Homo sapiens: one gene and its partner. The protein of the gene in region 1 interacts with the protein of each later gene in a pairwise test. Each region holds a gene or a part of one and is shown on either strand. Other genes may lie near its edges. The genes, in order: TAS2R19 and LNPEP.

Region 1 (6,048 bases):
CACAGTGTTACCCAGGCTGGTCTCAAAATCCTGGGCTCAAATGATCTTCCCGTGTCGGCCTCCTAAAATGATGGGATTACAGTCATGTGCCACAGGGCCTGGTCTGTAATATTATTAATATATTAAATAATCACGATGTTTTAAAAAATGTAAATTAAACAGAAGTGACATAGCCGTGATATAAAACAGTGACACAGTGTTATTATTATGATACAAGGCAAATTGTTTTGATTTTTCCTCATAATGGGTGTAGATTAAGAACCATTCAGCAAATCACAAGCCCAGTAAAAAGTACCAGAAGCTCTGCTCTGCTTAGTGAAGACAGCACATCCTGGAAAGCATTTGTGAGTGTTGATTTAAGTTTCTGGTAGTCTGCATTCATTCTATAACCCGTCTGGTTTTGATAGAGGCCAGATAGGTTTAGTGAATCGGCTTATAGAAAGGACTACCATCCCCTGTAACTTTCAAGTGTTTTGTCACGGCACTGACCAGTTCCATTCCTTAGGGAATGCGGTTATTATATTTTATATATTTTGTTGCCAGTAGAGGAGAATTTCAGAGGCTTCCCTTTGGTCCTGCTATAATAATGTCCTTTACTCTACAGTTCACGAAGAATGTGAGTCCTGCCGGCTGCCATACATATCTATTTCAATTATACTTTCAGGAAGAGGTAGTAACTACAAACTGATTAGCTCCACCTTGGAATGGACATGAGCCGAAGCTCTAGGTAGTATCTGACCTTCAAAAACTCCCCCTGCAGGCTGGATGTGATGGCTCATGCCTGCAGTCCTAGCACTTTGGGAGGCGAAGGTGGGAGGATCCCTTGAGAGCAGGAGTTCCCTTCACAACATGTGGAAACTCCGTCTGTACAAAAAATTTAAAAAATTAGCTGGTGTGTTGGTGCATGCCTATAGTTCCAAATACTTGGGAAGCTGAGGCAGGAGGATTGCTTGAGCGCAGGAGTTCCAGGCTGCAGTGGACTATGATCCTGCCACTGTACTCCAGCTTGGGTAACAGAGGGAGACTGTGTCTCAGAAGAAGAAAAAAAAACAAGTATAAGTTCTCACCGGTATCTTAAACATCAAGTAAAACAGTATCGAGTAAAACAAAAAACTAAAAACTCCAAAAGTCAAAAACACTTTTAAAAAGAACATGGTGTTAAGAGTAGTTTGTTCAGTTTCCCCATAGAAAATGATTTATGGAAGGAGAATAAAAGATTATTCTGAACACTAAAACAATAAGACTGAAAAAATGAATTATCAATATTGAGAATCCAATAGACAGAGTTAACCAGTTGGATACAGTACAAGAGAGAATAAGTGAATTGGAAGATAGCTACACAGAATGAAGCATAGAAGGGAAGAGATGGAAATACACAGAGCTAGAGGGTAACACATTGATGCTACAGACAGAACACCTAACATACTTCTGGAGTTCTGTAAGATTAGAGGAGAGAAAATAGAGCAAGAGAAATGTTGCAAGGATTTTTCCAAAAGGTATAAAATGTATCCCTGAATATATTTTTAGTAATCTCAAACTTCAGGCATGATAACTAAAACCAAATTAACATAAAATAATACAGGACGCAAAAGACCAATAGAAAATCTGAAAAGTAGCTAGAGGTAGAAGATAGAGTATGTTGAAAAGAACTGTATTCTAAATACAACCTGATTTTAACAGAAAACATGGAAGCAGGAATTCAATGGATTAATGGGAATCATGTCTTCAATGTGTTTCCAAAGAGTAGTAGACCTTCATAAACAGAAATTGAAAATGATATTTTTCAGATAAAATAAAATTACTGAAAATACAAAGTTGAACACGCAAGGAGCATTACAAATTAATGACAATCCATGCTGGCTAACACGGTGAAACCCCGTCTCTACTAAAAATAAAAAAAAATTAGCCTGGCGTGGTGGCGGGCACCTGCAGTCCCAGCTACTCCGGAGGCTGAGGCAGGAGAATGGCTAAACCCGGAAGGCGGAGCTTTCAGTGAGCAGAGATCGTGCCACTGCACTCCAGCCTGGGTGACAGGGAGACTATGTCTCAAAAAAAAAAAAAAAAATTAATGACAATGAAAACTAAGTGTGTAATTCTAAATAAATGTTGACTATATAAAACAATAGTGTCTTCTTGGATTGAATGTATAATTGATAAGATATATGCAAATAGCAATAAAGAGGCTGGAGATAAAGGTAACAGGAATAAATTTAGTCAAACTGTGTTTTGGGCTTTTCTATGTCTGTGAGAAGAATTTGAACATCATAATCAAGGACCCTGTAATTCTACACCCAGATATATATACACAGAGGAATTGTAGCAAATGATATGTGAAAGAATGTTCATTGTAGCATTATTCATAAAAGCTCAAAAAATAAGCTGTCCAAATATATATCAAATAAGGATGGATAAATAATTACAGTAAAATCAAAAAATGAAAAAAATATAGAGAAGTGAAAAGATATGGATCACATGTACATGCAATGATGGGGTTAAATTTTGGATACAAAATGTTGATTCCAGGAAGCCATGAATAAGAACATATAGGATTGCACCTATACATAGATCAAATCAGGCCAAACCAAGCTATTGAGTTTAGGGTCGAATACCTTATTGGTAAAGTATAAAGAATATTAAAAAAAGACCATCATAAATTAGGGATGTTGCTTATCACAGGAGACATGAAGAAAGGTGTAGGGAATTAGAAAGTGGCATTGAGGTAAACTTAGGCTCTTAGCAATGTTCCATGTCTTGCCCTACATGATGGTTACATGAGTGTTTATGACACATTGCTATGTTTTCCATTTTTGTTTTGGTTCATTTCTAAGTGTGCAGTCTAGCTATATGATAAAAATTATTAATTAGGAGAAATGGTCCATGAAAATTATTATTACTCTGCTCATTATATACTGAAGGGAAAAATCCACTATTTGTATACATTCATGTGTAACTCTAAGAGATTTTAAGTAGAAACTTTCTGATTTTAGTTGCAACTTTAGGAAACTTGACATGATGTTACCTGCCAACCACAGATTTCTGAATAGGTTTTTCTTTTAGGTTTAATTACCCACTTCATATGACAAAACTTGGACATTCTCTATTTTTTCCTTCGATCCTGAATTCCTGACACAACAATGGTGGGCATATTTCCCACACTCCTGATTTAGCAGAATACCTACATCACTTATGTTTTTCTGCAAGAGAAAACTGAGTTAGATAATTGTGTATCATTATGTCTTTGGATTACATTTTTCTAACCTAGGTTTGGTGGATGGCTCTGGTGATTGGAGATGGGCCACGTACTGCATCTTGCCGCTAGTTTGGCTGATTTAGGGTAGATAAGGCAGTGGCATTCTGACTCCATTAGTTTCTCTTTCTTCTTCTGGGAACAGTGTGCTAGCCAGATGATGTCCTCATGGTTAGTGGAAAAGAGCAGGAAACTTCAATATGGAAGCCATCTTAAATCTCTGTAAATTCTACTAATTTCCTGTTGACTGAAGCAAATTACGTGAGTGAATTCAGAGTCCAAGGTCAAGGTAGTCACCCTGCCTGAGGTGGGAGGGTACTGCAGGATTATGTGACAAAGAGTAGGGTACTTAGAAATATTTACAAAATTGCTGAACATTTTAATTAAATAATTAATGTTTAAACAAAACAGACTTGAGTGTAAATATACCAAAGGCCTAAGCTTGAGAAACATGTTTGATAAATATTATTCATTGTCTGACAGCCCTGAGTTGGAAAATAAGACTAATACCACCTGGATGAGTTCCTGGAAACTCATTTTCCATTTGGGGAATTATAAGAAAATAATTCCTTCCATGCCCTAAGGGTGTGAGTGCATGTGTGTCTATGTGTTTAGGAGCTTATTAACAATGATGTCATATCAATTTATTGGTTATCAGAAACCAGATTTTAAAGTGTATCAGCCTCCCAGGGATTTCCAAGATAATCTTGGATGATTTTGATAAAAGGTTTAGAATCTGGTATTTAAATCTGGCATAAAAATAAGTCCATATTGGTATGATCCTAGTTATGACCAAGCTCCTTTAACAATTTAGACATTTACTATATGATATATGTATTGGGTTTTACAATTTCCCTATGGAACAACTGAAGATGCTGTATACAAATTATGGAGAGGTTAAACAAGGAAAAAAATTGCAAAACAATGAAAAATAATATGCCTTTCTTTGCATACTAACACATGAGAATTCATTTTCCACTTCAACCTCAGTATAAAAAAGTACAGCATATAGCAAGGAGAGAATGTATATGAAGAGGAGTGAATTTGAGCTGTTTTGAGAATAATGACCTTTTCTATTTCTATAAAGACAGTTTTGAATTCATCTATTAGCATATGCTGGTGCTTGCCTGTTGACACTAGTCACTGAATTTAAAGGCAGAAAATGTTATTGCACATTTAGTAATCAAGTGTTCATCGAAGTTAACATCTGGATGTTAAAGGACTCAGAACAAGTGTTACTAAGCCTGCATTTTTTTATCTGTTCAAACATGATGTGTTTTCTGCTCATCATTTCATCAATTCTGGTAGTGTTTGCATTTGTTCTTGGAAATGTTGCCAATGGCTTCATAGCCCTAGTAAATGTCATTGACTGGGTTAACACACGAAAGATCTCCTCAGCTGAGCAAATTCTCACTGCTCTGGTGGTCTCCAGAATTGGTTTACTCTGGGTCATGTTATTCCTTTGGTATGCAACTGTGTTTAATTCTGCTTTATATGGTTTAGAAGTAAGAATTGTTGCTTCTAATGCCTGGGCTGTAACGAACCATTTCAGCATGTGGCTTGCTGCTAGCCTCAGCATATTTTGTTTGCTCAAGATTGCCAATTTCTCCAACCTTATTTCTCTCCACCTAAAGAAGAGAATTAAGAGTGTTGTTCTGGTGATACTGTTGGGGCCCTTGGTATTTCTGATTTGTAATCTTGCTGTGATAACCATGGATGAGAGAGTGTGGACAAAAGAATATGAAGGAAATGTGACTTGGAAGATCAAATTGAGGAATGCAATACACCTTTCAAGCTTGACTGTAACTACTCTAGCAAACCTCATACCCTTTACTCTGAGCCTAATATGTTTTCTGCTGTTAATCTGTTCTCTTTGTAAACATCTCAAGAAGATGCGGCTCCATAGCAAAGGATCTCAAGATCCCAGCACCAAGGTCCATATAAAAGCTTTGCAAACTGTGACCTCCTTCCTCATGTTATTTGCCATTTACTTTCTGTGTATAATCACATCAACTTGGAATCTTAGGACACAGCAGAGCAAACTTGTACTCCTGCTTTGCCAAACTGTTGCAATCATGTATCCTTCATTCCACTCATTCATCCTGATTATGGGAAGTAGGAAGCTAAAACAGACCTTTCTTTCAGTTTTGTGGCAGATGACACGCTGAGTGAAAGAAGAGAAACCCTCAACTCCATAGATTCACAAGGGGAGCATCGTGGGTCTTCTAGCAGAAAACAAACTGATGGTGTCTGGAACATTTTATATTTCTATCAGTTTTTCCATAGTGTTTGTATGTGAGTAATTTCAAAACAGATACCTAGAAAAGTCATATATATATTTATGGGTGTATATGTGTGCATGTGTGTGAATAACAACGTTGACCATAAATTATGAAGCTGAGTATATTTCACATATATAGTATTTATATTTTATTATAGTTCATTGTATAGTATTTCATTTGAAGAATTTATTATCTCTCTTTATAATTAAGAACGTACAGCTTTTATGAAGAAATCATTTCTCTTTTCCATTGTAATTTGTACCACATATATGTGCTTAACTATCATTGGTGAACCTCTAATTTTTTGGATGGTAAAGACATTCAATTTTAAATCAATGATAAGAATGGATCTTTGGGGTAGGTTTTATTTCATTATGAATTCTTATTTTATGCTTAGTAGAAAGCAAATAGAATTGTTGTTAGTTAATGATGCACACAATAAAATTGGAGTGAAAAACATATGTAGAGTAAATTTTGTATATGTATACCAAAACAGTACTAAAGAATACTAGATTTAAT
Region 2 (7,164 bases), on another chromosome or scaffold:
AGTTTAAAAAACAGAGAAACTACTAATAAGAGGGGGCCAGCCCAAACTCCTGCAGGTGATCTTGATAAATGTGGACACACTAGCTCCTCTCACCAAGACTCAAGTGTCATGGCAGCCTCCCTTATTTCATCATTGAGGCCCTTCCGACAATTATAGGACAAGCAGACACCAGACATGTATTACATTCTTTCTGTCTTCAAAGCACTTTACCAATACCAACTTAAAAAGATATTTAAACATCTCCTTTTGATTGAGCTCTCAAGATTGAGTTCTCCTCATCATTCCCACTAATCTCTATAAATTTTTCCTCTAAAGAGGATCTTGGAATGATTTTGTAAACCAAAAATAAAATTCTAGGCCCCTCAACTGACCGAATGGACCCCTCTGACTGAACGGCCAAGGGCATTCCAAAGTAAACATGAAAAACTAGCTCAGGCTATGATGGGAAGCGGGGGTCAGACGCACCTCATTATACTCTCCTCCCTTTGGAATTCTGGCACAACTGACCAGCATTAATATTAAAACAGAGATCTTAAGACTGACGAAACACTCTTTGTAGCAATAAAATACCAAATTCTAAACTGACTCTAGTATAACATCACACAACAGATAGCAGGCTGTGAAAGAAATAAAGGTATTTTACCCCAAAATATATTTCTTAGACCTATTTTGAAATGGCCCTGCAAAGCTGTCTCTTGTGTGGAACATTCTATAGAAAAAGACCTTTCTGATCTCTTTTTTTTTTTTTTTTTTTGAGATAGGGTCTCACTCTCTTGCCCAGGCTGCAGTGCAGTGGCATGACCACAGCTCACTTCCACTTTGCCCAGGCTCAAGTGATCCTTTCACCTCAGCCTCTCAAGCAGCTGGGACCACAGGTGCATACCATCACACCTGACTAATTTTTTTTTTTAATTTTTAATTTTTTTGTAGAGACAGGCTCTCACTATGTTGCCCAGGCTGGTCTTGAACTGCTGGCCTCAAGCAATCTTCCTGCCTTGGCCTCCCAAAGTGCTAGGATTACAGGTGTGAGCCACTGCACCACCCCAGGTCTTTTTTTGATCCAGGAGAGATTTAACTAAGAGTCTGGCACATTTTACGTTCTGATAAGAGATAATAACCATCTATTCTCTGAAAGCCTGCTACCTGGAGGCTTCGTCTACATATTAAGAACCCTGGTCTCCATGACCCCTTACCTTATCTTAACCCAGACACTCCTTTCTATGGATTCCAGGTCTTTAGATAATAACTTAATTATTTCGACCAACTGCCAATCAGAAAATCTTTGAATGTGGCCACATGTGTGGCTCATGCCTGTAATCCCAGCACTTTGGGAGGCTGAGGTGGGTGATGACTTGAGGCCAGGAGTTCAAGACCACCCTGGGCAATATGGCGAAATCTCATCTCTACTGAAAAAACACAAAAATTAGCTGGGTGTGGTGGCAACATGCCTATAATCCCAGCTACTCAGGAGGCTGAGGCACAAGAATTGCTTGAACCTGGGCGGCGGAGTTTGCAGTGAGCTGAGATTGCACCACTGCACTCCAGTCTGGGTGACAGAATGAGACTCTGTCTCAAAAAAAAAAAAAAAAAAAAAAAAAAGCAAAAATAAGAAAAACAAAAAAGAAAATCTTTGAATCCACCTATGAACTGGAATAGAAGTCCCCGCTTTGAGTTATCCCCTTTCCAGACTGAGCCAATGTACACTTTACATGTATTGATTGTTGTCTGCCTATAACTTCTGTCTCCCTAAAATGTATAACATCAAGCTGTAACCCAACCATGTTGGGCACATGTTCTCAGGACTTCTTGAGACTGTGCTTTGGGCCTTGGTCACACATTATTTATCTCAGAATAAGCCTCTTTAAAGATTTTACAGTTTGACTCTTTTCATTGACAATGAAATGTTTCATTGACAATGTAATGATGTTTCATTGATGAATATACTAACAACTGTTTTAAATTTGACAAAATAACAGTTTCAGCTGTGAGAAATACTATGGCTTAAGCCTCCTTCCTTACCAGAAATTTTCTCTATGGCACTGAATGACACCTGAGTCAGTTGTCCGGGAAATGCTCCCACATAGCACTGTTCATCACTTGCTGCAAGAGGAAGGGAGCACACCCAACCCATAGAGGCATCCTTTTCTCACTGCACTCCTCATTCTTCTGTTCCCTCAGTTGAAGAAGCCTTCTTTAACTTCCTTCACCCCAGATCATTGGCTGGAGAAGACTCTGAGCCCCACAATCCAGAGAAATTCAGACAACTGATTCAAGTTCTGGTTCAGTGACTACATTTTTGAAATATGTGGAATGCCCAGGAGTACCTTCATTAAGCAATATGTATTAGAAGAAAAAGAATTTCAAAAAGTCTCCTACAATTGAACTTGATCCTCCATTGTTTTTTGAAACTCCCTTGGAAGCTTGAATTTTCCTTATTTGGCAAATGACCTGGTTTCCTCCTCATTTACATGTTAAGGATGGAATTTTAAAAAAATTAATTGGTTCATTGTTCTATCACAAGCACCAGTAGAAAAGTGAAGCAAAGCCAGGCTATAAAGAATAGTAGGCTGGCCACAGGGCCGCACTGGCTCACACCTATAGTACCAGCACTTGGGGAGGTCAAGACAGGCAGAACATTGGAGCCCAGGAGTTCGAGACCAGCCTGGCCAACATGGCAAAACTCCATCTCTACAAAAAATACAAAAATTAGCCAGGCATGGTGGTGTGCACCTGTGGTCCCAGTTACTCGGGAGGCTGAGGCAGGAGAATCGCTTGAGCCTGAGAAGTCAAGGCTGCAGTGCTGTGGCCGTGCCACTGCACTCCAGCCAAGCAAGACCCTGTTCCCGTCCCTCCCAAAAAAAGGAACAGCAAATGACTGCTACCATGGTAGTCCCAAAAGGTAGATAGCTCTCTATAGTTTTCTTTTTTTTTTTTTTAAACAACTGGTAATCATTTATTAAAATAGTTGACTTAAGCATCTGCAATGGTGACTTCAACCTCAACTCCTGGCTCAATAATGATGGAAGTAATCTGCTTAACAATCTCAGAAAGACTGTGGAAGTCAATGAGTCACTTATGGATTCTCATCTGGAAACAATACCATGTCTCAGAACCTTCATAAGAAGTTTTTCTTGTAATGTTTCTCAAAGTCTTGGTAGGCATTCAAACTGGTCCTATCACTTTAGATTCTTTTCCTTTGATCCATTGATCAAGTCGGCACACACCTTCTCCAAGGATTTTACCTTGCAGCTCGTTAGAGTGATTCTTTTTATTTATTTATTTTTTTATTATACTTTAAGTTCTAGGGTACATGTGCACAACGTGCAGGTTTGTTACATATGTATACATGTGCTATGTTGGTGTGCTGCACCAATTAAGTCGTCATTTACACTAGGTATATCTCCTAATGCTATCCCTCCCCCCTCCCCCGACTCCATGACAGGCCCCAGTGTGTGGTGTTCCCCACCCTGTGTCCAAGTGTTCTCGTATTTTTTTTTTTTTTTTTTTGAGATGGAGTCTCGCTCTGTCACCAGGCTGGAATGCAGTGGCACGATCTCGGCTCACTGCAACCTCCGCCTCCTGGGTCCAAGTGATTCTTGTGCCTCAGCCTCCCGAGTAGCTGGGATTTCAGGCACGTGCCAACATACTCAGCTAATTTTTGTATTTTTAGTAGAGACAGGGTTTCACCATGTTGGCCAGGCTGGCCTCAAACTCCTGACCTCAGGTGATCCGCCTGCCTCAGCCTCCCAAAGTGCTGGGAGTATAGGTGTGAGCCACCGCGCTGGGCCTAGAGTGATTCTAATTCAGTGAATTGCCACCTCTGGCTTCATGGGCGTTTTTCTGTATCTCCTGACCAACCTGTTTTTTGGTGAGAGCGAGCGGCGGTGAGTCAGGAGCAAGAGCAGGCTTACCACAGCTCCACACCACGTTGTTTATCAAAGAGCTATATTTTTTCTTTAAATCTAAAACATTCAGACAAGTGAACAGTCCCAACTTACGAGTGACTGAATTTTCTGACTATAAAAAAGACAGTATGCTTAAATTTCTGGCAAATGTTTTCTATCTCTTGGCAAGGCTCCCAAATGCCAATCTTAACTCATTTGTCCCCTGAGCCCCCAATTCCATTAATCCAACCAGACCTACCTACCTGTCCCCTTCCAACCTAGACTCTGTCTTCAACCTCATACAACAGTGTCCTGCTCTCCAACTGAAGCTCATTTCTGAACCAAAGACTTGCAAGGATCAAGGCATGACCATTTTTAAAATCTCTGCCTATCAGCTTCTTCCTTTACCCCCAATCTCCACATTTCTTTCATCTTCATCATTGATTCTCCTCTTCCAATTTTCTCTAAACATCTTTGTAAAATGCAAAGTCCTTCAGGTGCTGCTAGGACAATCACAAATGAATTACAACAATGGATAAGGTTACAAGGGAATCCTGTCCACCCTTCCATGGACACAGAGAACTCTTGATGTTCCATTTACTGTCCAGAAACACCAAGGCAATAAGCAACACTCTCTATAACGGCCATATGTAGATCTAGGTCAAGATCTAGATATAAAAAGAACTGTACCACCACAAGGGCTCCAAAATGTCCCTTCATTCTCAATCCTGGCTTCTTGCAAACTTTCAGAAAAGTTGCTGAAATTTATCTACGGATTCAAATTAAAAAAATAATAATAAATAAATAAATAAAAGACTGTGTCTTTCTGGTTGCTCCAATTATACTATGGAAAGGCCTAGTAGTATCAGCTCAACTCCAGCCCCCTACAGTAGGTTTGCCCAACCCCAAGGCCACAGACCAGTACCAGTCTCTGGCCTGTTAGGAATCAGGCCACACAGCAGGAGTGAGCAGCAGGCAAACAAGTGAAGCTTCATCTCTACAGTCAGTCCCCATCGTTAGCATTACCACCTGAGCTCCACCTCCTGTCAGATCAGTGGTGGCATTAGATTCTCATAGGAGCACGAACCCTATTGTGAACTGCGCATGTGAGGGATCTAGGTTGTGTGCTCCTTTTGAGAATTTAATGCCTGATCTGTCACTGTCTCCCACCACTCCTAGATGGGACTGTCTACTTGCAGGAAAACAAGCTCAGGGCTCCCACTGATTCTACATTATGGTGAGTTGTATAATTATTTCATTGTATATTACAATGCAATAATAATAGAAATAAAGTGCACAATAAATATAATGCACTTGAGTCATCCCCAAACCTTCTCCCCTTTAGAATATATCACAAACTAGAAAGTATACATACATCCCCCCGACTGTGGTCCCTGGTCCCGAAAAGTTTGGGGACTGCTGCCCTACAGTTTTCAAGTCATGAGGTGACTAATTGACAAAACATAGCTGCACTGACCTCACCTCGACTGCCAAGAACCACAGGCCTCATCTAGGTCCATCCCAACATCTGGGGTAATCTTGGCTAAACTCTTTCAAATCTCAATTTCCTAATGTTTTCATAGACAGGGTTAATACTGCTGTTTCCTAATAGGAGTATTACACTAAATTAGTAGACATGCAAACAGTTATGAACAGTTTCTGTACATTTATTTCATAATTAGAATACTGTCTTAGACAAAACTTTATTGCTTTTTTATTTCTTCTGTGTTTCCATATTTCATATTAGCATGACAACAAAACTAGGTTCTTCTATTCATTTCTCTTATTTAGGTAAGCATTATCTGATGACGAGGTTGTGGGTTTTTTTTTTTTAATGTAACTGTGTCTAGCAGAAAATCTACTTGTAAATGGGCATTCAAAAGATAGCTGTATGATTGAATTACTGAGCAGAAAATTACCACTTATTTTCTATATAATTTCCTTATAACCAATCTCTCTGGTTATCTATCTTTCAGGCTGAGTTCTCAAGGATAACCTACAGATAAATGATAATCACCGGTTATAAGAGTTTCTAAAATATGCTGTTTTTATGCATGTATCAAGACAGTTTTTGGAAACTGGCAAGTAATAGCAAAGAACTTTTCTACCACTAGTTTCCAGTTAAAAACTGGGCTGTTTCTAGCTATAGCTTTAACCCTAGATTGTTAGTGATGCTAACACTTAATTCCTAACAGTCTTATTTCCCCCAAATAAAATTAAAAACTTAAGACAGAAAGATAAAAACAGGATTTAACTTATATTCCATCACACAGAGAAACTATGAGCTCCTATTTCTTAAGAGTTGTCTTTCAATGTGGAAATTTATCATAGAGCAAAAGAAAAATAAAAACAAAATGTGGTATGCTCACATTTTTGAGAAGTGATGCTAAAAATTTTTTTTTAAAAAGACTCACATATCTATAGAACAATTGTTATTTGTAAGATTAAAAGATGGAATCACAATTTTATACTGTATTACAACCCACAAATATCTCATTTGTTGCCCAGACTTCCCATTTTTGAAGTTGAAAAATACTTTCAACTGGATACCAATCTGAACATGAAAGCAAAAATAATTTTTTAAGACAACTAAGTCCTCCTTGTTTGATTATGCACCACACTGCGGTAATAAAAGTGATTCATAGGACCTACATTCATATGAAAAAAAAAACTATTTATGTTTTCAGTTCTGGGACCTCAAAATGCCAAAATACCAACCTTTAGATATACTTTAGAATATATCACAAACTAGAAAGTATATATACTTTCAGCTGGGCGCGGTGGCTCATGCCTGTAATCCCAGTACTTTGGGAGGCTAAGGTGAGCGGATCACTTGAGGTCAGGAGTTCACCTGGCCAACATGGTGAAACCTCATTTCTACTAGAAATACAAAAATTATTTGGGCATGGTGGCGGGCGCCTGTAATCCCAGCTACTCGGGAGGCTGAGGCAGGAGGATCACTTGAACCCGGGAGGCAGAGGTTGCAGTGAGCTGAGATTGTGCCACTGCACTCCAGCCTGGGCAACAGAGTGAGACTGTGTCTCAAAAAAAAAAAAAAAGAAAGTATACATACTTTCTAGTATGTATTTCATATATAATCAGACCTCCTTAATCAGATTCTGAGGGTGAACCTTAGCATTTGCATTTCTTAAGATGAATTTAAGTTTTTACAAAATATACCAACCCTGCATGCAAATGAAGACAAAAATCTGGATAAACATCAAAGAATTATTTAATCTAATATCTCTAACCAAAAAAGCAGATAGTTGCCTTCAATTTT

The links.
Region 2: the proteins of TAS2R19 (region 1) and LNPEP interact in binary tests that used the Homo sapiens proteins (3 or more experiments, as listed by UniProt).

What each region holds. Positions count from the first base shown.
Region 1 is NC_000012.12:11,021,039-11,027,086, reverse strand, and holds TAS2R19 (taste receptor type 2 member 19), read left to right. Parts: upstream 1-4,466; 5' UTR 4,467-4,515; coding exon 4,516-5,415; 3' UTR 5,416-5,468; downstream 5,469-6,048. UniProt on the Homo sapiens protein: Receptor that may play a role in the perception of bitterness and is gustducin-linked. May play a role in sensing the chemical composition of the gastrointestinal content.
Region 2 is NC_000005.10:96,938,996-96,946,159, reverse strand, and holds part of LNPEP (leucyl-cystinyl aminopeptidase), read right to left. Parts: intron 1-7,164. UniProt on the Homo sapiens protein: Release of an N-terminal amino acid, cleaves before cysteine, leucine as well as other amino acids. Degrades peptide hormones such as oxytocin, vasopressin and angiotensin III, and plays a role in maintaining homeostasis during pregnancy.